Linked DNA regions of Homo sapiens. The protein of the gene in region 6 interacts with the protein of the main gene of each other region in a pairwise test. Each region holds a gene or a part of one and is shown on either strand. Other genes may lie near its edges. The genes, in order: ZNF219, ZNF8, ZCCHC17, EVI5L, GCSAM, AP1M1 and NECAB1.

Region 1 (4,297 bases), on a different chromosome or scaffold from region 6:
GGGCTCAAGCCATCCTCCCTGCTTGGCCTCCCAAACTGCTGGGATTACAGGTGTGGGCCACTGTGTCTGTCCTGATAGATATGTTTTTCTACCTATTCGCACCTCAGTTTATTCACTGATAAAAGGGGGCTAACAATATGACTGTGAAGAGTTGTTGATTCAGGGTGGGTGTTTAATAACTATTAGTGGTGCTGATGAGGTCACACCGATAAGTCTGATGCCCATACACTAAAAGTGTTATTCAGAAGGAAGCTGGGGACACATTTCTACAGTCGGAAGCAGAACCAGCTGGGCCCAAATATACTCTATAGATCAAAACAAATCCCAGATCTACCTAGGTGCCCTTGGCAAGTTGCTTAATCTCTCTGTTCCCTTATCTATAAAAGGAAGTTAATAATACCAGTCTCAAGGGGTTGCTTTCAGCATGGAAGAGAGCTTAGCCCAGTACCTGGTACACAAGTGCTCAATGTTAGTGGCTATGATCATCATCACTATTATTATTTCTTGTTGTTGACGATAAGAGGAGACTGCGCCAGAAGACTCTAGAAGTTAGTACGAGGAGGGAGGCAGGGTCCTGGGAGGCAAGTGATCTTTTGTAAGCCACTCCTGCCCCATCAGTGCTGTGCCAACATCGGCGGGTCATTGTATCTACTCTTTTCTTTCCCGGGGAGTGGGAGTCACGTTTTAAAGAGATCCAGAAAACTGCTGTGTGTCTACTCCTCCTCAATTCCCACGTGCATTGATTTTATTTGGTGGCGATGTGAGATGTTGGGCTTGCACTGAGGATCCCCGAGCCTGCAGGCCACTGGGGAAACAGACTTCCTGAAGCCTCATTTTTCTTACTTGTAAATGGGGGCTAATTTAATTATAGAGGGTTATTGGAAAGATTATATACTATTAGATAGGTGAACAGGCATTCAGTAAATATTGACTAAATCTGAGTATACTACTTACCAGTTTGTAGTCTAGACTACAATCGCCTGGAAGGAAGGTACCACTTCTTTCTCATCCCTCACAGCGCTGAGCCCAGTGCCTGGCACTTAGTAAGCACTCAGTAAATATTTGTTGTATTGAAGAGCCATTAAAGTGACTTGAGGAATGGAAAATAGAATTCGAGAGGAAGGCGCAGGAATTGTTTATCAAGAACGGAAAGGACCGAAGAGTAACTTTAATAATGTTTCTTATACGGCCGACATTAACTATCTCTATAATCGCCCCTCCTCCTCCCCCAAAAGAGAGACAGAAATTGTAAGGGAGAGGCTTTGAGATAAAACCCCAGGAAGAACTTCCCGAGTCTGTGCATGTTGGGGCAGAAAGAGCGGCAGAGCCAACTCCTTCCCTGGTATGTCCGGGTTTAGGGAGGGAGGGGCAGTGCTGCTTGGAGGCTGGGGGAAGGACGAGATGACCTTTCAAAATCTCTTCCAGTCTCCTGTTGGAATCCTCTGTGCGCCCCACCCCCGCTCCCTCCCTTCCTCCCTCCCTCCGACAGCGCCCCCCGTCTCCAAACCGCCCGCACCCCGCCCCTGGCGGCCGCCTCTCGCGGCTCCCGGGGTCCCCAGCTCCCTGTCCCCGGAGCCAGAGCCCGGCTCCCGCGCGGCTCCCAGCCCCGCCGCGCCGCCCCCCGCATGCTAATGGCCGGGCCGCCTCCCGCCGCACACAATGCGGGCCAGGGCCGGGGGCGGGGGACCGGGGAGGGGGCGGGGGCCGGGCCGGGGGCGGGGGGGCCGGGGCCCGGCGCATCTCCCCCGGCCCCACGTAACGCTGACGCCCGCGCCGCCGGCCCGCCGCCCGCCGCCGCCGCCGCCGCCGCCGCCCGCTCCGCCGCCGCCCGCCCGGGGCTCGTGAGTAGCCGCTCCCCCGACTCCCGGGCCCCCCCGTCCGCCACCCGGCCCCCGCCCCCGGCCCCCTCCCCCCTCCCGGAGGGGGGGCCCGCTCAGCGCGCCCGGCTCGGAGCAGGTGCAGGGGGCGGGGGCGGGGGAGGGGCGCCGGCTCGGCCCCAAGCAAACTTCGCCCAGAGCTCCTGGGGGGGCGGGGTGGGGGTGGCGGCCTCGGAAGCCTGGAGAGCTGGGGGGCCCCAAGGGAGGGGGGGCCAGGTGGAAGAGCTGGGGGAGCAGACACCAAAGGGAAGGGCCAACGGGGGGGATGTGGCGGGGGAGGTGGCGGGTGTCTTTGTAGGGGCCCGAAGGCAGGGCGCGAGGGACCTGGGGGTGAGGGGCGGCAGAGCCGCGAGCCTGAGTGGATGTGCACCCCCCAACCCCCGGCCCAGGTAGGGCTGGTGGGGGAGGGGGAAGGAGCCCAAACTCTCTGGAAGCACGGGGTGGCGGGGGAGGGGAAAGGATGGGGGGTGCTTCCCTCTTTGCGTCCCAAACAAAGTGTCACAAAGAGCTCGGCCCGCGGCAGCAGCGGAGGCGGCTGTAACTCAGCTTTTGTTCTCCTGGCCGGGGGTAGCTGAGCCTTGGCCTCCCTATCTCCCAACCCTGCCCCCCATCATCCTTCTGGCTTATCTTCCTGGGGAGGGGTCTGGGGTGCTGCTGGAAAAACCTCTCCGGCAGGATAGCAGGTCCTACCCTACTTAGCAATCTATTTCTGGGAGGGGGATTTTCCCAGAGGCTCCCTTGATCGCCCCTACCTCCCAGTCTGAGGACCGAGGCTCACGTGGGTGCTAAGACTGACTTTTCTAGGGTCAGCTCCACTTAAAGGGACTTAGGGCTGGCTACATGCCCCTCTTTCCCAAACCCAGGTCTTCCAGAACTTTCAAAATCAAAATCGGGGTTGCGTTAGGACATGCCTCTGGGATAAGATTCCCCATGGTGGGATGGCAGCAGGTGAGCAGGTGTGCCTTCCTCTCGCCTCCTGCTGTACCTTTGAAGTCCATGGCTGAGGTTCCATGTCCCTAACTCAGGAGAGTGAGGACAGAGGGAAGGAGGCTTTACCAAGATCTCAGTCTAAAAAGGCTGGTGAGCTGCAGAGTGGAGCGGGTTAGGAGGAGCTATCTGAGCAGTGAGGTTCAGAGGGCCATGGAGAGGAGACCATAAAAGTGAACTACTGGTGTGTCTGTGTGATCAAGGTAGTCTTTTGAACGTAGACCGCCCTAGAAGCTCCCTTTCCTTTTAACCCCATCTAGTGCAGTGGTAATCATAATTGTTAGCAGATTTGGGAGGTCTAGGATTCTCAAGAGGGAAAACCATCGTGTTAGAGGTGACCAGAGGCAGTTACAACTGGACCCCAGAAGTCCTGAACCCTTGCTCCTTACACTTTGACCCTAAAAACTTTTGAATCACAAGACTTGAGGGACAGTCTTTGTGGTCCATTTAGCAAATACTTCTATGTACCTGTCCTTGTTGTTTCTAAGTCTTTTCACCAACCATTCCATCCTTCTCTACTGAGTAAGGTTTAGTGGTCCACACCCACTTCCCTACCAGCTGCCCCAGCATGTAAGGATAATTGGCCTACTGCTTTTGAAAGGTTTCTGATATCTATCCCTGGCCCCGCATCCTTATAGAATCCAAATAAGGGCAAGATAACCCCTGATTCCCAGTGGGGGTGGAAAGTAGGTCAGTGCTGCTGTCTGGCCAAGTCTCGAGGATGGTGTTTAAGGCCTGACTATAGAAAACTCTGTGATTATTGTCCAGGGGCAATATATGCATGACCTCGGTTCCAAGGCAGTTCATAGTATCCCAGTCCCTGTCAGTTCTTTCCCCTACTGAGAAAAAAATCATGGGATCAGGTGTCTGGAACCTGGTTTGATATGGAGATGATTCAGATCTTCATTGGGCCTAAGAAGGTATCTCAGTGAGTTTTGTTGATTTTAGGCCACCTTCTGGGGAAACTTTCCGTGCTGGGGAATTCAGCTTCAGTTTGGGCCTTCTTGTATATCACTCTATTTCTGTTCTGGAAACTGCTATGTGCAAAGTGGTTTATTGTTGTTTTGTTTTGGGATAGGAAGCTTTGCCCTTTTCTGACTCTTCTTGCCTCAGATATGAGGCCAGCTTCCTAAGAGATTTTGCTTGCTATCCTACAGACAGTTTTAGGGGCCCTAGAATCTTCTCAGAATGAGAGTATGTGCCCATAGGTTAGTCAGCTATGACCATGCAGTATTCCCAGCCCCCCCGCCCCACGCCTCCACCATCTGCTTCCTCTGAATATACCAGATTGGCTGTACACCAGGATGTTCCGGGAATCCCCAGGAGAGCAACAGAATGTGATGGACCCAAATATGATGCCTCAGTAACTCATTCCAGGATGTACAAACTGTAACTGTCAGGATGCTCCTTATAGCTAATTAAAATTCTTCTAG
Region 2 (3,500 bases), about 42 Mb from region 6:
GTACAAAAATTAGCTGGGTTTGGTGGCACATGCCTGTAATCCCAGTTATTTGGGAAGCTGAGGTGGGAGAATCACATGAACCAGGGAGATGGAGGTCGCAGTGAACCGAGATTGCACCACTGCACTGCAGCCTGGTCAACAGAGTGAGGCCCTGTCTCAAAATAAAAAATAAAAAAATTGAAGTATTTAGTATATGTGGTTTTGTTTTGTTTTTTAACCTAGCAGCAACACTGGTGGTGTATAGTTTTGATTTTTCATTTCCCTGATGACTAATGATGTTGAACATCTTTTCATGTACTTATTTGCCATTTGTGTATCTTCTTTTATATATTCTTCAAAGAAATAACTATACAGATTCTTTGCCTATTTTAACTGGGTTGTCTTTTTATTACTGAGTTGTATGTGTTCATTACATATTCTAGATACAAGTCTCTTATCAGATATGTGATTCCCAATTATTATCTCCCATTCTGTGAGTTGTCTTTTCACTTTCTTGCTAATGTCCTTTGAACTACAAAAGTTTTTGTTTTGATGAAGTCCAATTGATTACATTTAGTTGCTTATCCTTTTGGTTTCATATCTAAGAATCCCTTGCCAAATCCAAGGTTACAAAGATTTATCTCTCTGTTTTCCTCTAAGAGTTTTATAGTTTTAGCTCTTACTTTTAATTTAATTTAATTTTTTTTTTTTTGAGATGGAGTCTCACTGTGTCGCCCAGGCTGGAGTGCAATGGCATGATCTCGGCTCACTGCAACCTCTGCCTCCTGGGTTCAAGCAATTCTCCTGCCTCAGCCTCCCAAGTAGCTGGGACTACAGGAGCACGCTGCCACGCCCGGCTAATTTTTGATATTTTAGTAGAGATGGTGTTTCACCATGTTGCCCAGGCTAGTCACGAACTCCTGAGCTCAGGCAATCCACTCGTCTCAGCCTCCCAAAGTGCTGGGATTACAGGCGTGAGCCACTGCGCCCAGCCTCTTACATTTATGGCTTTGTTTCTATTTTATTTTATTTCTTTTTTTTCTCTTCTTTTTTTTTTCTTTGAGACAGGATGTCACTCTGGTTGCTTAGGCTGGAGTGCGGTGGCATGATCTTGGCTTGCTGCAACCTCCACTTTCCAGACTCAAGCACTCCTCCTACATCAGCCTCCCAAGTAGCTGGGACTACAGGCAGCCTGGCTAATTTTTTTCAAATTTTTTTTGTAGAGGCAGGGTTTTACCATGTTGCCCAGGCCAGTCTTGATCTCCTGGACTCGAGTGATCTGCCTGCCTCAGCCTCACAAAGTGCTGGGATTACAAGCATGAGCCACTCTGCCCAGCCAGCCTAATTTGTTTTGAGTTAATTTTTATATATGATATAAGATAGAAGTCTGTGTTAGTTTGAATGTGTCTCCCAAATTTCATGTGTTGATAGTATTTGAAGGTGGCGACTTTTGGGAGAAATTTAGGATTAGATAAGGTTATCAGGATTGGACTCCCTTGATGGGACTAGTGGCTTTAGAAGGAGAGAGAGACCTGAGCTGGCACACTCTTGCCCTCTCGCCATGTGATGCCCTCCACCATCTTATGTCATAACAAGAAGGCCCTCACCAGATGCCAGTACCATGATATTAGACTTCCCAGCCTTCAGAACTGTAAGAAATAAACTCTTTTTTTTTTTTTTTTTTGAGTCGGAGTCTCACTCTGTTGCCCAGGCTGGAGTGCAGTGGCGCAATCTTGACTCACTGCAAGCTCTGCCTCCCGGGTTCACACCATTCTCCTGCCTCAGCCTCCCATGTAGCTGGAACTACAGACGCCCACCACCACGCTCGGCTAATTTTTTGTATTTTTAGTAGAGACAGGGTTTCATCGTGTTAGCCAGGATGGTCTCGATCTCCTGACCTCGTGATCTGCCCGCCTCGGCCTCCCAAAGTGCTGGGATTACAGGCATGAGCCACCGCTCCCAGCCCACAAATAAACTGTCTTCATCAAAGTTATTGAAAGAGAGAGAGAGAAAAAAAGCAACTTTCTTTATAAATTACTTCGTCCTTAGGAGGACAAGGCGAGAGGATCACTTGAGGTCAGGAGTTCGACACCAGCCTGGCCAACATGGAGAAACCCTGTCTCTACTAAAAAATACAAAAATTAGCTGGGTGTGGTGGCGTGCACCTGTAGTCCTAGCTACTCAGGAGGCTGAGCCAGGAGAATCAACTGAATCCGGGAGGCAGAGGTTGCAGTGAGCCAAGATTGTGCCACTGCACTCCAGCCTGATTGACAGAGTGAGACTCCCATCTCGAGAAAAAAAAAATAATAAATTATTCAGTCTGTGATATTCTGTTACAGCAACAGAAAATATGCTGGGACAGGGACTATCTTTACTCTTTTCCATGTGGCTATCCAGATGTCCTGTAGGAAGTGTTTGTAAACCACTTAATCATTATACAGCCCCCAAGGGGTGATGCTTTGTTGACATGGAAACTGGGAAGCAAAGATGCTTCTTGGGGACGAAGTGACTGAGCCAAGACTCTGATCCAGAAATATCTGGCTTTCAAGCATGGCTGCAGAAGGGCTTTGTTTATGGGACACATTTTAGGTAATGTTGCATCAACTTATAAAAATCAGAATTTTTCACGTAAAGGCCAGGCGCGGCGGCTCCCGCCTGTAATCCCAGCACTTTGGGAGGCCGAGGCGGGTGGATCACTTGAGGCTAGGGGTTCGAGACCAACCTGGCCAACATGGTAAAACCCCATCTCTACTAAAAATACAAAAATTAGCCGGGCGTGGTGGTGCGCTCCTGTAGTCCCAGCTACTACGGAGGCTGGGGCAGGAGAATCACTTGAACCTGGGAGGCAGAGGTTGCAGTAAGTGGAGGTGGCACCACTGCACTCCAGCCTGGGTGACAGAGCAAGACTCTACCTCAAAAAGAAAAATAATTTTTCACATAAAAATCTGACCTAATTTTCAGCTTCTCTTCAGAGATGAGCAGTTCTGACAAAGGGACCTGTATTTTCCCGTAATCAGTGAGTTCTGAGTCCCTGCTGCTCCTTCAGACAGGGTCCATGCTCCCCATCACCTCCAGTCCCACCACTCATAGGTAAGTGTCCTTGTGGGCTCTTAAACTGGCCCACTTCTGTCATGTGAGCCTGCCTTGCCCTGAAAGCAGGCGAATTTCTGACCCCAGCCCTGTGTGCTTCTCTTTTCAGGAAGGATGGTGAACCTGTTTTTTTGTTTTTTTTTTTTGAGATGGAGTCTCACTCTGTCGCCTCAGCTGGAGTGCAGTGGTGTCTTGGCTCACTGCAACCTCCACCTCCTGGGCTCAAGCGATTCTGCTGCCTCAGCTTCCCAAGTAGCTGGGATTACAGGCATGTGGCCCAGCCAATTTCACTTTGTATCTAAGTATTAGTGAGTGTATTAGTTAGCTGCTGTGTAACACTGTCCTAAAACAGTATCTGTTTTACTTAAAACAGTAACTGTTTCTTTAGCTCACAAACCTGCAAATAAGTGGTTTAGGCCAGTCTCTGCTGG
Region 3 (3,500 bases), on a different chromosome or scaffold from region 6:
TATAGCATCCATAGTATTCATTTAGTTTTTTTGAGATGGAGTCTCACTCTGTTACCCAGGCTGGAGTGTAGTGGTACAATCGTGGCTCACTGCAACTCTGCCTCCTGGGTTCAAGCAATTCTCATTCCTCAGCCTCCCGAGTAGCTGGGATTACAGGCATAGTCCACCATGCCTGGCTAATTTTTGTATTTTTAGTAGAGACGGGGTTTCACCATGTTGACCAGGCAGGTGTCAAACTCCTGACCTCAAGTGATCCCCCGCCTCAGCCTCCCAAAGTGCTGGGATTACAGGCATGAGCCACTACCGCTCAGCCCTAGTTAGTACTTTCATTTACTCATTTGTTCAACAAATATAAGGCAACTTGTAATAAATACTAAAAGAGTAGTTTAAAGCAGTTGTCCCCGACCTTTTTGTCACCAAGGACTACTTTTGTGGAAGACCAATTTTTCCATGGATAGGGGGCTGGAATGGTTTTGGGATGAAACCGTTCCACCTTAGATCATCAGGCATTAAATTCTCATAGGGGGTGCGCAACCTAGATCCCTCACATGTGCAGGTCACAATAGGGTTTGCACTCCTATGAGAATCTAATGCTGCTGCTGATCTGATAGGAGGCGGAGCTCAGGTGGTAATGCTCCTTCACCTGCTGCTCACCTCCTGCTATGCAGCTTGGTTCCTAACAGGCCATGGACCAGTAGCAGTCTGTGGCCTGGGGGTTAGGGACTCCCTGTTTAAAGAAAGGGTTCTAGGAATTCACTTGAGGAGGAATAGTTTACTTCAGGCCTTGATGGTCAGAGAATAGGTGGTATTTGAGTTAGGTTTTGAAGAACAGATAAGATCTTGTCAGACAGCAGGGGAAGGAATGGTATTTCAGGCAAAAGAAATGGTTTGAGGAAAGGAATGAGGCAGAAAAGCACATAGTACATTTGGGAACCTTGTTTAAGGAAAGAAGAGGATATGGTCAAGTACTAGAATGGAAGGCTTGAAAGATAATTTAGGGTCAGATTGTGGAGAGCCATGAATATCAGTTAAAGAATATGAATTTTTATTTATTTATTTTTTGAGATGGACTCTTGCTCTGTTACCCAGGCTGGAGTACAGTGGCATGATCTCTGCCTCCCAGGTTCAAGCAATTCTCCTGCCTCAGCCTCCTGAGTAGCTGGGATTACAGGTGCCCACCACTGCGCCCGGCTAATTTTTGTATTTTTAGTAGAGACGGGGTTTCACCATGTTGGCCAGGCTGGTCTTGAACTCCTGGCCTCAAGTAATCCGCCTGCCTTGGCCTCCCAAAGTGCTGGGATTACAGGCGTGAGCCATCACACCCAGCCCATGAATTTTTTTAAAAAAGCCTTTGGACAGAGAGGCTTCTCGTCAGATTAACCTCCCCAGGAATCCCATTGTCTGGCCTTGCCCTGTTATGCTCAGTATTCTCATCCTGTCTTCAGCCATCCATAGTTTGTTAGCCACCTTTCATTTTCCATAAAAATCTAACTCTTATATTCATCCCCTCAGGTCCCAAAGTGTTAATGAGATAATCTAATAAGTGACTCTGTAAATGGAAAGGGGCTAAAAGCAGTTTCCAATTAGGCATAGCCTGCAAAGTACAGTCTTTTTCTTTTTTATTATGATCAAGATCAGAATTGAGTGTAGTATATAATTTTTTTTTTTTTTTTTTGAGACAGGGTCTTTGTCTCCCAGGCTGGAGTGTAGTGATCATAGCTCACTACAACCTCAAATTCCTAGGCTCAAGTGATCCTCCTCCTTCAGCCTCCCAAGTAGCCAAGACTATAGGTCCATGCCAGCATGCCCCACTAATTTTTTTTTTTTTTTTTTTTTTTTTGAGACAAGAGTTTCACTCTTGTTGCCCAGGCTGGAGGCAGTGGCACGATCTCGGCTCACTGCAACCTCCACCTCCTGGGTTCAAGCAATTCTCCTGCCTCAGCCTCCCGAGTAGCTGGGATTACAGGCATGTACCACTATGCTCGGCTAATTTTTGTTTTTTTAGTAGAGACGGGGTTTCTCCATGTTGGTCAGGTTGGTCTTGAACTCCTAACTTCGGGTGATCTTCCTGTCTCGGCCTCCCAAAGTGCTAGGATTACAGATGTGAGCCACCATGCCTGGCCTAATTTTTAAATTTTTTGTAGAGATGACGTCTTGCTGTGTTGCCCAGGCTGATCTTGAACTCCTGGTCTCAAGTGATACTCCCACCTTGGCCTTCCAAAGTGCTGAGAGATTATAGGTGTGAGCCACAACTGCTGGTCCATAGGGTAGTCTTTAGAAAAAGCACATATGACTTAACTCTGTTAAAATTTTTCATTTGTATGTCTCCCTCCATTGCCAGACTATTAGTTCTTTCCAGAAAAGAATCATGTTTTGTTCGTTTTGGTATACATAATTATTACTATCACTAGTATTAGCACTGGCGTTATCCACTTACTAGCTGTACTGAAAAAATGAGATTAATCTCAGAATCTGTGCTGGGATGGATTGGAGGAAGAAAACTGGAGGCAGGGAGACCAGTGAGGGAGTTATTACTCTAGATGAAACATGATGGGAGCCTAAACTAGAATGATGGCAATGAGGACAAAAAGAGAGACGTGGGTGACTGACACATTTGTTGAATTGAGTGTTAAGTGGGAAGTATGATTTGGTTTGTAGTCTGGTAGAAGCCACAGAGTATTGGAATTGATTGTCATGGGGGTTGCTTAAGCTGCAACTCACAGCCACTTGAAACTCATCTCTACAAATAGATAGGTGAAAGCAAAAACCATGTTTGTGAGTTCCTTGAGTTATGTCCTCAAGTTTCTGCCTTTGTTATGGGTTTTTTTTTGTTGTTTGTTTGTTTTGGAGACAGGGTCTTGCTCTGTCACCCAGGCTGGAGTACAGTGGTGCAGTCCGCTCACTGCAACCTCAATCTTGCAGGCTTAAGTGATCCTCCTGCCTCAGCCTCTCGAGTTGCTGGGACTACAAACACAAGCCACCATGCCTGGCTATTTTTTTTTTTTTTTTAAGTAAAAGGAATCTGTACTGTTAGAAATTAGAATTGTGATTACCCTTGGGGGAGGCAGGTAACTAGAAGGGAGCATGAGATGGGCTTCTGAGATGCTGGCAATGTTCTGTTTGTTTGTTTGTTTGTTTGTTTTGAGACAGAGTCTCGCTCTGTCGCCCAGGCTGGAGTGCAGTGGCGCAATCTCGGCTCACTGCAAGCTCTGCTTCCCAGGTTCATGCCATTCTCCTGCCTCAGCCTCCCAAGTTGCTGGGACTACAGGCGCCCGCCACCTCGCCCGGCTAATTTTTTGTATTTTTAGTAGAGACAGGGTTTCACCTTGTTAGCCAGGATGGTCTCGATCTCCTGACCTTATGATCCACCCGCCTTGGCCTCCCAAAGTGCTGGGATTACAGGCATAAGCCACCACACCCAGCCTTAATGTTCTGTTTTTTGATCTGAGTACTGGTTACTTTGGTATGTTCAAATTATGAAAAATCAAGTGAGCTGTATA
Region 4 (3,500 bases), 8.4 Mb from region 6:
GTTACAGTGAGGCAAGATTGTACCGTTGCACTCCAGCCTGGGCGACAGAGTGAGACTGTGTCTCAAAAAAAAAAAAAAAAGAAAAGAAAAGAAAAAAAACATTTATTGAGCACCTGCTGTGTGCCAAAGTCACAGCTGAGACTGAGGGCGCACCAGTGATAGGAAGGGACACAGACACAAACCCAACACAGCCTGGCTCCATGCTCTTCAGGGGCAGAGCCGCACAGTGGCTAACACTGGAGTCCAACAGACAAGGATTCAATTCCAGCTCCAGCGGCACAGTGGCTCACACCTGTAATCCCAACACTTTGAGAGGCTGAGGTGGGAGGGTGGCTTGAGGCCAGGAGTTGGAGACCAGTCTGGGCAACATAGCAATACCCCGTCTTTACAAAAATATAGAAATAAATACAAAAGGTGTGCCCAGCTCCTGCAAGGATGGCTGTGCTTGGTGCTGTGATGGGTTGAAGCCAGAGAGATGATAGGGAAACCCAGGGGCCAGGGATCAGGGCTCCAGATTGCTATGAGGACCAGAGACCTGAAATAGCTCTGACCCAGCTGAACTGAGGGACTAGGGCAATGCCCTGCCCCACTCTGACTCAGTTTCCCCACATGACATGCATCAATGACTGTCAAGTCTGCGGTTCTGTCTGACTGCATTTGCTTCCTGGGAATGTTCTAGGTGTTTCCATCACCTTTTCTCCCCAGAAGAAACCCAGGAAATATTCTGTGTGACCTGCAGTGTGGCAGGGCCCTCACTCACCTGCCAATCCAAACAATTTCTGTACCACCTTAGTATCAAGCAAGGGGGCACAGGTACAGTCGAGATTCAACTCGTTTGCAAACCTCACCTGCTCCCCAGAGTGTCCTGGGGGAACCTAAAGTGCAAATATCTTTTTCTTTTTTTTTTTTTTTTTTTGGAGATGGAGTCTTGCTCTGTCACCCAGGCTGCAGTGCAGTGAGGTGATCTCGGCTTACTGCAACCCCTGCTCCCGGGTTCAAGTGATTCTCCTGCCTCAGCCTCCCCTGTAGCTGGGATTACAGGCATGCACCACCACGCCTGGCTAATCTTTGTGTTTTTAGTAGAGGCTGGTCTCGAACTCCTGACCTCAGGTGATTTGCCTGCCTCGGCCTCCCAAAGTGCTGGGATTACAGGCGTGAGCCACTACACCTGGCCTAAAACCGCAAATATCTAGCCAAAATCCATCAGCACAGAATGGAAGGCAGGAGCAAGGGAGACGTCTTCGAAACCCCAGCCAGGGAACAGAGAAAACCACTGGGGACAGGTTGCTCTCAGCAGGTCATGGGAATGTAGTTGTCGAGAAAGGATGCATGATCAGCACGCTGGACCCAGACTCAAAGAGGAGCCTGCCCCCGGAATTGAACCCGGGTGCTTGGGGCAAAGCAGCGAGGGGTGGGTGGTGGCTGCTCGACAGCTGCTTCCCCCACTGATTCCCGCACAACCCTTGGCAGACTGACCCACGTGTGGGAAGGAGTCTTCTGAGGGGGCGTGGGTACTGACTGGCCCCCAAACACACACACAGCCACGAAGGCACTGACGTTATTTTTACTGAACCCAGGTTTGTTTTAAAACTTTATTTTTTTGTAATCAAGCCAGTCTGAACAGGAATTGGCCCTGTTTTCTGAAATCGCTGACCCAGAACGTAAGATGCTGGCTGTGCCCTGCCCGGAAAAGTGGCCTGGCCCTAAGGGGACTGACCCCGGCAGTGGGTAAATGAGGGGTGCATGTAGACAGGCGTGGGGGGCGGGCTATGACGTGATCTCCCCCCACCCCCATAGAGACTTCGGACGGAGAACCGGCTCCTGAAACAGCGGATTGAAACCCTAGAGAAGGTGAGGGGCGTGGCCACTGTGAGGACATGGTCGCCATGGGGTGTGACCCACCATGCGGGGCATGGCCGCTAACCTGGGGTGGACTCCTCCAAGTCTTCTCCTCTCTGGAGGACTAAGCAGCCCTACCTTCCTGCCCCAGGACCCGACCTGAACCCGATTTGGAGTGCCCTGCAACTGGGGGCGACTCGTATGGTGATTAATCCTGGAGTGGGGGCGAGTTACAACCCAGTGGCCTGCAGCCACGGGAATCCATTTGTGTTCTGTGCCCTCCCCGGCTGCACAGACGGGGAGGGGTGAGGAGGAGGGAGAACTGCCACTTTGATGGACGAGCCCCGTAATTGGGCCACAAGCCACCCCACCCTGTAATTTGGAAGTCTTGCCCTCAAAAGAAAGGAAAGGAAACCCAGTGGAGGAGAAGCGTGGCGCCATGGTGGGGAGCCACAGCCCGGACTCTGCTCCCCAACATGCTAAAGATGGGGGTGGAATTGGGGGCTCACTGAGCCCCAGCCCCGGGAGCCCCCAATTCCTGCTCCTCACTCGTCCTCACTTGACCCTCCACTGGCCACAGGAAGTGGGTTGGCAGCCGGATTTGGTTGCCCTCACCCCAAAGCCTTGTTCTGCCTTAAAATTACAACGCACCCCCTCCTCTCCCACTCTCCAGGAGGTCCGCACGAAGCCAAAAGTCCCCCTGCCCCCCACAGTTTTTCCAGCCAGCAGCGGCCCGGCTGACCCTGGAGGGTGGGACAGTGGGTTTCCCAGCCCTGCGGCCTCCCCCACAGCCGCGGGCACCCCCGACCTCCCCGCTCACACCGAACCCCTCTCCAGGACGGAGCTGGCTCTAGCTTTGGTCTTCCTCCGGGTCCTCTCCTGCTGGTTCTCTGGTCTTCCCTCCTCTCTCCCCCGCTTCTAGAGATAGTCCACTGCGTTAGTGACAAGTGGTTCTTGTCTGTCTCCCCTCTCCTGTCCCCGCGCCTTCCGCTCTGCCTCCTCCCCCTGTCGCTGGGAACCCCCTTCGCCGGGTAGGAGAGCGCTGCTCTGGCTGATAGGTTAATCCAGGTACTGTAGCTTTTTATCCCCTCTCCGGATTCCTTCCTGGCCCCTTCCCTGCACCCTGCACATGACAGCCAGTAACCGCCTCTTCCCTGCCATTCTGCGGGCAGGCCTGGCGCCATGCATGGAGCAGCTGGGGACCGCTTCTGGGGGACACAGAGGCTTCCCGGGGGGGCGGGGCATGTGAAGTGGGGAGAAGGGTGTGTGTGGAGGGGCTGTGAGTGCGTTTGGGTGTGAATGTCCACATGCATGTACAGAAAGCTTCCTCCGGGCGACACAGGGTGGGGACCCAGGAGGGCTGGGGAACCTAAAACCATATTCACATAAGGCCCTGGTGTGTGCAGTGCTGCGGTCACACACACACACAACACATGCACACACACACACGCACACACACGCCCGGCCCTCACGCTGCTGCTCTCTGCTCCTACCTGCAATGCCTGCTACCACCTTCTCTAGCTCACCTGCTCCTGCTGCCACCTCATCTTGAATGGCTTTATCTGGAAGCTGCCACCCGCCACCTGGTGGCTTTGAGCCTGGAATGGGGGGCCCAAGTTGGGTAGGGGACAAAGATGAGGTGGGGGAAAAAAGGGGGTCTT
Region 5 (3,500 bases), on a different chromosome or scaffold from region 6:
CAGTAACTGGGGGCAAGGATACAAAAGGTGGAGGAGAAAGGCACTTACAAGAAACTGCAAGAAAGCCAGCCTGGGATAGGGGAGGGGTGGGGCCTCCTGGCCAAGTTAAAGATTTTCATCTTTGTCCTGACAGCTGCAGGAGATACTGGCTTTACACAGTGGGGAGGCGGGGGCAAGTATGATTAGATTTGTATTAAAGATATCACCCAGGTTCCTGTGCAGAAAACAAATTGCAGCAAGGAGCCGGAAGAGCAGATACCAGAAGAACACTTACGAGGCTGGTGCAGTAGTCTCTGGTGATAGAATAGCACTGAAGTTAAGGAGAAAGAATTCTAGAAGGAGAGTGTGATGAATTGTATCACACCTAAAAATAAAAATAAGAAAGTGTAGGCCTGAGGACAAGCCATTGTGTTTCTGAAGAAGAAAAATGGAAGAGTTTTGACTTTTCCTTCCTTAAAGAGGAGAACCTAATTCATTTACATAGAATCTTAAAATCTAGCCCTGCAAGATGTGTAAATGAATAATACAGCCTCCCACCCTAGCCACTTCACTCCAGGAGTCGTGGGTCCCAGGGAACCTCAATTTCCATCAGAGCAAAACGTAATAGAAATAAGACCAGATGCTAAAACTCTATGCTGAAGATGCTTTTCTTATAATGATAATCAGGGAAGTTTTAGATGCCTATAGGAGCTTATGGAGATGTGGAAATCCAGGATGTGAGGACCGAGAGAATGTCAATCCATATACCATATGGTAGCTTCCTCTGTAGACTTTCATGTGAGGGCACATGTTTGTTTATGGAATTGGTGTGTTTGCAAGAGGGTAGCAAGGGTGTCAGTTTGCCTCTTTGCTGAATGGCCAGAGCCATTTGGTTTTAACTAGGCTTTGAAAAATCGCCCTGCTCATTTGTTATCTGCCAGCAGGTATAGGAATGGGAATATTTAGCTTAAGAGTTTCCTGCTCTGCAAAACTCCTTGAACACCAATTATCACACCACCACCATCCCGTCACCTAGAGTAGAAACGACGGCCCTCTGCTCCACAGTGTGGATCTCTCAGAGCCCCTTGTCTGTCTCCTGTGCTAGCTTGTGAGCCTTTTGAGGACAGAGAATGTTTCTGATTCTCCTTTGTCTCCCCAGTGCCTGGTGCAGAGGCACTGAATTTGTGTAAGGAACACAAATCAATTTTGTGTAAGGAAGGAGACGGGGCTAGGTAAGGAGGGAAAGAGAGCTGGAGGAAGAAATCGTGATTTCCTTTCCAAAGACTAACCAAATGTGTCTCCCCCCTCTCACCTCTCAGGCTGAGCACAGCTCTAGCTGTGACTTGTTTAGATGTCCTGTCACTCCCCAGGGATGTGCTGTAGATCAGAATAGCCTGAGAAGAGCTACCCCAGCTGTTTCTTGGCTTTTTAGTTATTTATATTCTAGCCTCCCCTGCTCTTCCCTTCAAATCTCCCCATAACCTGAAATTCATTGAGTGTATTTTCTTTCTCCAGATGAAAGAATGTCATCTACTCCCATCCAGGTAATAAGAACATCTCTAAGCTATTTTTTGAGATGATGATAGAAGTACAGACACCCTAAATGGCAGGAGAAGTTGGCCTCTGAGATCCCTTCTGACCCTTACATGGAGAAAGACTTTAGATGTCAGTGCTTGTGAACTCGGGTGGCAGGTGCAGGGCCGGGTGGCAGAAGCAGCAGCCACTTCTGCTGTATAATTTATTGAAAGGAACTTAAATTTACTGACCACTTCATTTATGACAGACAACATGCTGAGTGCTTTACACACATCAACTCATGTAGCTAAAACGACAACCCTTGAATATTGCTACTATAATCCATCCCATCCCCCGATTTTATAGATGAGAAAACTGAGAGATTAAGTGACAATTCCCCAAAGCCAAATAGCTAAAAGGGGGCGGAACCAGGATTCAAAACCAAGTCTCACTTCACAATCCATGCTTTTCCCCCTGTACTTTGCTGCTTTGCTTTTTATCTCCTGATATCCCATCATAAGTGAAACCTTCCCTTGAGTCGCTTCCCTATTTAATAACATAAATATCTCTAGAGGGTAATTAAATATCACAGCCAAAACACATTAAGATATCATAAGATTATTTATATTTATTTATTTATTTTTTGGAGACAGAGTTTTGCTCTTGTCACCCAGGCTGGAGTGCAATGGCACGATCTCAGCTCACTGCAACCTCCGCCTCCTGGGTTCAAGCGATTCTCAGCCTCAGCCTCCCCAGTAGCTGGGATTGCAGGTGTGTGCCATCACACCTGGCTAATTTTTGTATTTTCAGTAGAAATGGGGTTTCACCATGTTGGCCAGGCTGGTCTCGAACTCCTGACCTCAGGTGATCCACCCACTTCGGCCTCCCAAAGTGCTGGGATTACAAGTGTGAGCCACCGTGCCCAGCCAGATTATTCTTTTTTATTAGAATGGGCTATCCTCAGAGCCATGAGACTGGGAATTATATGGGTAGTGTCTTAGTCCACTTGTGTTGCTATAAAGGAATATGCAAAGCTGGGTAATTTATAAAGAAAAGAAGTTTATTTGGCTCATGGTTCTTCAGGCGGTACACTCATAACTGCGAGGATGGCACTAAGCCATTCATGAGAAATCTGCTCCCATAACCAAAACACCTCTCACTAGGCACCACCTCCAACAATGGGAACAAAATTTCAACATTAGATTTGCAGGGGACGAATATCCAAACTATATCAGGTGGTCAGAGGTCACTCTGGAACAAGGGGCAGAGGATGCACCTGAGCAGGCTCTAGACCTTAAGCACTCTTGCAGCTAGCCTAGTGGTTGGGGTAGAAGCAGCCATTTAGAAAAAAATGGCCAAGAGATGGGGAGGAGGTGGTCATAGAAGACAGACTTGACCAAGGGTCAAGCCTGTGTTGAGACTGAAATGTAAAGGTCATGGCAAGAGACCAAATCTTGATGATGGTTCTTCTTTGACAAGCAGGACAATGTTGACCAGACCTACTCAGAGGAGCTGTGCTATACCCTCATCAATCATCGGGTTCTCTGTACAAGGCCATCAGGGAACTCTGCTGAAGAGTACTATGAGAATGTTCCCTGCAAAGCTGAGAGACCCAGAGAGTCCTTGGGAGGAACTGAGACTGAGTATTCACTTCTACATATGCCTTCTACAGACCCCAGGCATGCCCGATCCCCAGAAGATGAATATGAACTTCTCATGCCTCACAGAATCTCCTCTCACTTTCTGCAACAGCCACGTCCACTTATGGCCCCTTCTGAGACTCAGTTTTCCCATTTATAGTGAAGTGGCTGGACTAGCATTTGTTTAGCACCAACAAATAAAAGGTGGGATGGGGGATCTGCCTGAAGCAGGGATGGGACACAAAGTCCCTCCAGCTTATCTCCCACAACAACCCTTTCCCTGCAGAGCATGGTTTGTATACCACAAGCCCTCTTAGCACGCAAAAGCCAAAATCTAAAGATCAACCATTTATCCTGAACAACACC
Region 6 (3,500 bases):
CCACACGATCTCGCTGTTCTCGGGGACCCACTTAACGCTCCCCACCGTCGTCTTGAACTTGGGTGAGTCGGCATCATTGGGCACGGGAATGTGGATCTCCACGTTGTTGGCTGTTGACCGCCGCTTGAACTGGCTTTTGGCCTGCAGGCCAGGCCAATGCGGCCCGGGGTTATGGAGGCCAAGGTGAGCTGGCCAGCCTCTCCAGGACACATGCCCCTCAGCCTGGCCCGGGGGATCCTCCCTAGCCCCGCCCCTGGCCCCACTTCTCCAGGCACTACCCACCCCTTCTCCTGCCCTCGAGACTCTCCCAAGACCTAATTTCAGGAGTTTCATCTTCATCCTCCTGTCTGCTCAGCTTCCAAGGCTCCTCATCCCTCCCTCTGCCCTGCCCTCCTAGGACAATGTCTATGTCCCAGGGCCAGGCTGCGCTGGACAGGGTCGCTGAGGGGCAGAGGTGCTCCACCTGGGGGCAACACCTCTGGGAGTGTCCTGGATGCCTGGCTACAGGCCCCTCCCCACAAGTGGCACCATCTAGGAGCAGGCCCCAGGCGGTGTCCCCTCAGTGTCAGGTCACTCCTGCATCTGAGGCCACAGTGAGGGTGCACGGATGGCAGCCCTACGGCACCCCCAGCCCTCGGTTAGGCTCCTGGGACGGGCCAGAGACACCAGAAGGCCCTCAGTGGGTGGCCTCGGCCCACGCACCTTGATCATGTACTCGATGCGGCTGTGGGAGTGCTTCTCGATCACCGACTCGATCCATATCAAAGGCTTGACCTGCCAAGGAGGGCAAAGAGGGTGCTCACACCTGGCCTTGTTTGACAAAGGCCCATTTCAGAGGGGAAACCAAGGCCCAGGGCAAGGGACCATCTGCCCAGGTGTGGGCCCAGAGCCCTGCAGGGAGCGTACAGCCAGCGTCAGGGAGGGCCAGGGCAGACAGGCCGAGGTAGCCGGGAGCTACCGGGGAGGCCTTGGGGCAAATGCAGAAAACATGACCAGGGCCTGCTCTGGGGGCTGCCTGGGAAAGGGGTGGTGGTGGCCAAAGGGGTCTGTGCCCCTCAGAAAGCTCGGAGTCCCAAGTCCTCAGACTCCATCTCTGCAGAGCCAGGCAGCTCATGGAGCGTGGGGTGGGGCTGGCCCTGGCGCCTGCCTGGGCTTCACCTCCTGGAGGTGAAGGGGAGGAGGAGTCTGCCGACAGCCCAGCCCCAGGGTGGCGCACTCACGTGGGTGTTGAGACGGTAGGACATGAGCTCGAACTCGCCGTCGGGTGGGATGAAGGAGATGGTGCGGTCATTCTCGAAGCGTGATAGCCGCACACACTGGTGGAACTTCACATCCTCCAGCTCCACGGATTTGCTTTTGCCGCCTGGGGTCAGGGGTGAGGGTAGGACAGATCTGGGCCCTCCGGGTCACTATCTCAGCAGTACTCCTACCACCTGCAACCCACCCCGGCAGAGCAGGGCCCCCAGTCCACGCACTGAGAGCAGCCTGGGCCACAAACACCAAGGGGGCTGGGTCCCAAGACAACTGCCCCATCACTCCTCACACCCCTGGGGTCCCCAGGGGCAGGGCTGGTGGGTCTGGTTCATGCTGAGTCCCCAGCGGCCATCCCAGGGCCCAGCCAGGGGACCTGCTCAGGACACGTTCACTGAATGATTGATCAGTGGACTTGGCTGGGGGATGGCTCGGGGCTCCCCAAGGGCTCAGGCCCTGGCATCCACGGGGTCCTGGGTCCTACCTTGGTTTGCCACCTCACTGAGGGCTATGTGGGTGGGGCCCTGCCCAGCCCCAGGCGGGGAGCTGCCCTGATAGACTGATGCCCGAGAAGCCCTCACCGGGCTAGGAACGGGGGCATGCCCAGCCACTGCACCCTCTTCCAGTGGCCTGTGACAGCTGAGTGGGAGGCACAGTTCACAAAACCAGGCCCTGGGCCCCTCTGCCCCCGCCCTGCTGTGGGAAGTGTTAGAGGCCAGGCGGCGGGAGCGAGAATCACCATGCGTGGCCTTCACACGGCCCACACCTAGGGCCCAAGGTGAGGGGAGAAACCTGGCCTGGGAGGGAGAGAGCAAGGCCTTAGCCTAGGCCCCAGTGCCCCAGGCAGAGCAGGGCAGGGTGCAGGACCTGGCGTGTGAGGCCGGGTGACGGGGGCCTCCCAGCTGGACTGGAGGATCTTCACTCCCCTGCACCTTCTATGTCCAGGGAAGGATGAATACTCTACACAGCTGTCTCAAGCAGTGTGAAGTGCTGCTCAACCAAGTGCTTGAAACCAGCTCGTTCCTCCGCCTGGCCCAACCCTGCCCTAGGCTGTAATGTGTGTGCCTGGTGAGGCCATCCTCATGGGCAGGGCCCTTGGCAAGGGTACTCACGGCCCGTGTTGTCAAAGAGGACCTTGTCGTTGAGGCCCAGGCGCAGCTCGGGCATGCCCGAGAGGAAGACTCGCATCTTGATGGAGCCCACGATCTCGCTGCGCAGGACATTGCCGTTGGCGCTGACCTGGGGGTGGCGGTGTGGGCGTGAGGGGAGGTCCCCAACTCACCAGCCACTGCCTCCTACCACATCATGTGACCCTCTGGCCACCCCACTCTCAACGCCCTTCTCACCTCCAAGCCCATCCCTCTCCTGGGCATCCCCTGAGCTGGGAGAGTCCCAGCTGTGGCTAAGGTCTACCCCTAACCCACACCAACCCACGCCTGGCTGAGGGTCCCCAGGCTCACCCCTCCAGCCTTCATGCCGAGGCCCTGTGGACATGAGGTGGACACTGTGGGTCCTGCCCTCTAGGCCTCAGGCCACACTGGGACCTGATGATGCGTGCCTGGAGCCCCCTCTGAGGGTTCTCTATCAGGTACCAGTCCCTCCCTCCCAGGAGCCCCCTGAATGCTCCGGGCCGGCCCGGCAGCTGGTCCCCACGCTGAGTCAGCTTTGAGAGTCCATGAGCTCGGCTGGACCTGGGCCAGGACCCTGTGGTCCCTGCTCAGCCGATGGGCTGGGCTGGGCTGGGGTCTCTTGAACCAGGCCAGACTTGCTTTTCTTGAAAGCTGTTTCTCCTCTTGGCCTCCCAGGGAGGCCACTGGCCCCTCACCCCCCAGGGCTTATGAGAGATGGTGCTTCCTGAGTCCTGACCCCTTCTTGCTTCTCAGGGCCACCCTGAAGTGTGATAACACTTGATCCAAAATAATCAACTTAAATCCAGTCACAGTGGCTAACACTGACAGCATTTCCACTGCGCCAGGCATTGCTCCACACACGCCTCGACAACCTCTGGGGCAGGGACTGTGGGGAGATGACCTGAGGGGCTGTAACCCACTGCGCATGCCGAGATGCATCTGAAAGTGCAACTGAAAATCCACACCGGGGCGACGGTCCTGCACCCCCTAGCCTGTCCTGCGTGAGCCAAGATGCTGGAGCATCTCTTCTTGCATCCATTTTAGAGGTGAGGAAACAGGCACAGATCAGAGGCCCCGTGCTGAGGGCACAGAGTGACTGGCAGAAGAATCGCTGGGGCT
Region 7 (3,500 bases), on a different chromosome or scaffold from region 6:
ATATTCCAGTCATTTCTGCAGCTTTTTTATTCATCTCCTGGTGGGTGGATGAGAGTGATGCTGTAGCCTCCAGGGCTCGACAGATCTTTTCCCTTCTCTCCACCCTCTCTCTCTAGGATCAATCTGGGATTGATGGGTACATGGTAAAAGAAAAAAAAAAAATCCTGGGTATTTTTTTCTACCATACTTCTAATTGCATTTGTTTTGTCACCCTTAGGACTACCAAGAAGCCTCCAATTTGGAACAATTCGTAACTAGATTTTTATTGAAGGAAACCCTGAATCAGCTGCAGTCTCTCCAGAATTCCCTGGAATGTGCCATGGAAACTACTGAGGAGCAAACCCGTCAAGAAAGGCAATTTACATGTTTTCATCTGATGTCTATTTAGTGACTCTATGTTCATGAAAAAACAATTGAGAGGCATTGTACTTACACTAGCAAAAACTAAAAAAGAGAATTGATATATTTAAAAAGAATGACAGTGACCTCCACTGGTTGCTTGCCTTATTATTTGCCTCTAAAAAGACCATTCTACTTTTTCTTTTACTGTCAGTCATTTAGTAAACTATATATATATATATATATATATATATATATGTGTGTGTGTGCGTGTATATATATGTCTGTGTGTATATATATACACACACACACATATATGTGTATGTGTGTATATATATACACACACACATATGTGTGTGTGTGTATATATATACATATATGTGTGTGTGTATATATATATATTTCTTTTTTTTTGAGATGGAGTCTCACTTTGTCACCCAGGCTTGAGTGCAGTGGCACGATCTTGGCTCACTGCAAACTCTGCCTCCCGGGTTCAAGCAATTCTTGTGCCTCAGCCTCCCAAATAGGTGGGATTACAGGCACACACCACCACGTCCAGCTAATTTATTGTATTTTTTAGAAGAGACGGGGTTTCACTATGTTGATCAGGCTGGTCTTGAACTCCTAACCTCAGATGATCCACCCATCTTGGCCTCCCAAAGTGCTGGGATTACAGGTGTAAGCCACTGAGCCCAGCTGAGTCAACAAATTTTAATTGAAAATTTAGTAGATGGAGAAGACTTTAAAGTATTATGAATAATATAAAGATACATTTAACATAATGTCAATCCTTAAGGAAGCCTAAGTCTATCATATAAATAAGACATGAACACAAAAACTATACTGCAAAGAACAAAGTGATAATAAATACCGTAGAGAAGAGGAAATACATTGCCAATTGTTTTCAGAATATTAAAAGATTAAATATGGATAGAGGGATGGAAGGATGAGAAAGTCAATTTCATGGAGTTTCTCTATTTGAGCTTGTCTTGCAAAATCAAGAGATCAGTGAAAAAGCCTGGTGGGAAGACAAGACTTGAACTGGACCTGTAGGATGAATTTGAATGGCAGAATGAGAGTCTCTCTAGAGGGATCCGTCTCACCCACCTCCTGTTACCCACCTCTCATGTGGCTCACTTCTCTTTGGTTGTCTGGTCACTGATTGGACAGTAATTTCTCTGGGAAGCCTTCACTGCTCATTCATACCTCCCACTTCACTACCGTGTATTCCTATAGTGCCCCCTATTTATATCTACTTATCTCAACCCCTTCCTTGTTAATTTGGTGTAATTTTGAAAATGTGGAAATGATGGGAAAGACCCTTACAGACTACATGAACCTGGATATACTTGGGAGACCTGATAATTCAGTAAGCCTAATTATTTCAGGAAATGGAGAAAAGTGAATGATGGAAATTATTTCAAAATTCAATGCCACCAATAGGTATCACTGAGAAAATAAGTAGTCATATTGCAATAGCTATATAAATAAAGGCACTAATGCTTAAGAGACACCTATACTAAAAATGTGTAGGGCACACATCAAGGTGATCCCAGCCAACAGTTGATATTTTTCTGAGTTGTCATTGCTTATACTTTGCAAGCTAGAGAAGCTTGCAAAACTCTTGCTCCTGGGGCATATTTTGGCAGATGTGTTACTTTAAACTTATAGATGTGCTTTATCTAACTTTTACATCTTAAATTAGAGAGAAGGAAACAGTAAGTTTTCTGAACAGGCTGATAATAGACTACCCTGCAGGACCAATTTTCCTGAACAAATTAACTGATACATAATTATTAGGACATCTCCAAAATAGTGGAATTTTCAACCATGTGTTTACAATGTCAAAATGAGTGAGCACCACCAACTTCTAACAAAAAATCCTGTAATTCCAGAATCTAATGAGCCCATGCAGCTGACTGTCACAGGGAAGTACTCTTTAGCAGATCTGTGAAGCATCCTCTACATCATAAACTTCCTGTTTTCACTGCGTTGGGTGATTCTATACCAAATGGCAAAGTATAACAATTCACTTTAGAAAAGCAAAACCCACCTCCTCAGCTTTGAGCAGAGGATAACTGAATGTCTTGAAGCACAGTGAAATGGATTTCATGTTCCTAATGAGAAAAATGAGGCCTCCTGTGTTGTTTCTTTTGTTTGGACTTTCTGGAAATAAAATGGGAACTCCCTTTTTAGAATCAGTCATCTGCCACCTGAGAAGAGGCTTGAAAAAGTGCTCTACTCCCCTTCTTCACCTGCGCTTTTGTTTTTTTCTACAGTCATCCCCTGAAAACCTGTGCTCTGCATTTACCACCATGCTGTGAATGTTTAATGAACAACTGTTTTCTGTGTTAGGCCACAGGCTAGCCTTGAACTCTTGTGACTGCTGCCAGCAGCTGCCTAGCAGCTGTGCTTAATGAGAAGGAGCATGACAATATAGACTTTAAGGAAAGTAGAAGGCACTAGAGGATTAACGAACCTTTTACTTCTGGATTTCTCACTCAAAAACAGCTTCAAATAATGGGAAATGTTACATGTCTGACTGCAGTTTAAGGGGTGCTGTTGTATGGCATTTGACTAAGACACCCAGGAATGACAAAATCCCACCCCAAATCTGTGATATTCCCCCTGAGAGGTTTATAAAGAAATGCATAAACAAGCAAACAGAAAATAAGGTACCACTATGGATTTATGCCCGTAATATCTGATGAACCAGACTGAAGCACGTGAATTATGCCCAAACCTAAAGGGACTGTGTCTCCTCTCCCAAGGCTATATCTTCCTATCAGCTGGCCACCAAAAGTGAGGAGAGCCCTGGGACCTTCATCAGTGAGGAAAAGATAGAGAGAGAAAAACTATACCTTTCCTATGATGTCAATCAAGAGACCAGTGAAAACGCCTGATGGGAAGACAAGACTTGAAGTGGAACTTTAGGATGAATTTTAATGGCAGAATGAGATTCTCTCTAGAGGGATCCGTCTCACCCATCTCATGTTACCCATCTCTCATCTGGCTCACTTCTCCTCGTCTGTCTTGTCACTGATTGGACAGTACTTTCTCTGGGAAGCCTTCACTGCTCATTTATACTTCCCACCTCATTACCATGTATTCCCATAGTGCCCTCTATTTATATCTACTTATCTCAGCCCCTTCCTTGTTTA

The links.
Region 1: the proteins of AP1M1 (region 6) and ZNF219 interact in binary tests that used the Homo sapiens proteins (3 or more experiments, as listed by UniProt).
Region 2: the proteins of AP1M1 (region 6) and ZNF8 interact in binary tests that used the Homo sapiens proteins (3 or more experiments, as listed by UniProt).
Region 3: the proteins of AP1M1 (region 6) and ZCCHC17 interact in binary tests that used the Homo sapiens proteins (3 or more experiments, as listed by UniProt).
Region 4: the proteins of AP1M1 (region 6) and EVI5L interact in binary tests that used the Homo sapiens proteins (3 or more experiments, as listed by UniProt).
Region 5: the proteins of AP1M1 (region 6) and GCSAM interact in binary tests that used the Homo sapiens proteins (3 or more experiments, as listed by UniProt).
Region 7: the proteins of AP1M1 (region 6) and NECAB1 interact in binary tests that used the Homo sapiens proteins (3 or more experiments, as listed by UniProt).

Annotation. Positions count from the first base shown.
Region 1 is NC_000014.9:21,095,856-21,100,152, reverse strand, and holds the start of ZNF219 (zinc finger protein 219), read left to right. Parts: upstream 1-1,497; 5' UTR 1,498-1,841; intron 1,842-4,297. UniProt on the Homo sapiens protein: Transcriptional regulator. Recognizes and binds 2 copies of the core DNA sequence motif 5'-GGGGG-3'. Binds to the HMGN1 promoter and may repress HMGN1 expression. Regulates SNCA expression in primary cortical neurons.
Region 2 is NC_000019.10:58,281,955-58,285,454, forward strand, and holds part of ZNF8 (zinc finger protein 8), read left to right. Parts: intron 1-3,500. UniProt on the Homo sapiens protein: Transcriptional repressor. May modulate BMP and TGF-beta signal transduction, through its interaction with SMAD proteins.
Region 3 is NC_000001.11:31,342,032-31,345,531, forward strand, and holds part of ZCCHC17 (zinc finger CCHC domain-containing protein 17), read left to right. Parts: intron 1-3,500.
Region 4 is NC_000019.10:7,854,218-7,857,717, forward strand, and holds part of EVI5L (EVI5-like protein), read left to right. Parts: intron 1-1,797; coding exon 1,798-1,851; intron 1,852-2,874; coding exon 2,875-2,907; intron 2,908-3,500. UniProt on the Homo sapiens protein: Functions as a GTPase-activating protein (GAP) with a broad specificity.
Region 5 is NC_000003.12:112,123,249-112,126,748, reverse strand, and holds part of GCSAM (germinal center-associated signaling and motility protein), read left to right. Parts: intron 1-1,494; coding exon 1,495-1,523; intron 1,524-2,973; coding exon of another isoform or gene 2,974-2,976; coding exon 2,977-3,294; 3' UTR 3,295-3,500. UniProt on the Homo sapiens protein: Involved in the negative regulation of lymphocyte motility. It mediates the migration-inhibitory effects of IL6. Serves as a positive regulator of the RhoA signaling pathway.
Region 6 is NC_000019.10:16,225,411-16,228,910, reverse strand, and holds part of AP1M1 (AP-1 complex subunit mu-1), read right to left. Parts: intron 2,491-3,500; coding exon 2,364-2,490; intron 1,364-2,363; coding exon 1,221-1,363; intron 775-1,220; coding exon 703-774; intron 142-702; coding exon 1-141. UniProt on the Homo sapiens protein: Subunit of clathrin-associated adaptor protein complex 1 that plays a role in protein sorting in the trans-Golgi network (TGN) and endosomes.
Region 7 is NC_000008.11:90,917,275-90,920,774, forward strand, and holds part of NECAB1 (N-terminal EF-hand calcium-binding protein 1), read left to right. Parts: intron 1-217; coding exon 218-354; intron 355-3,500.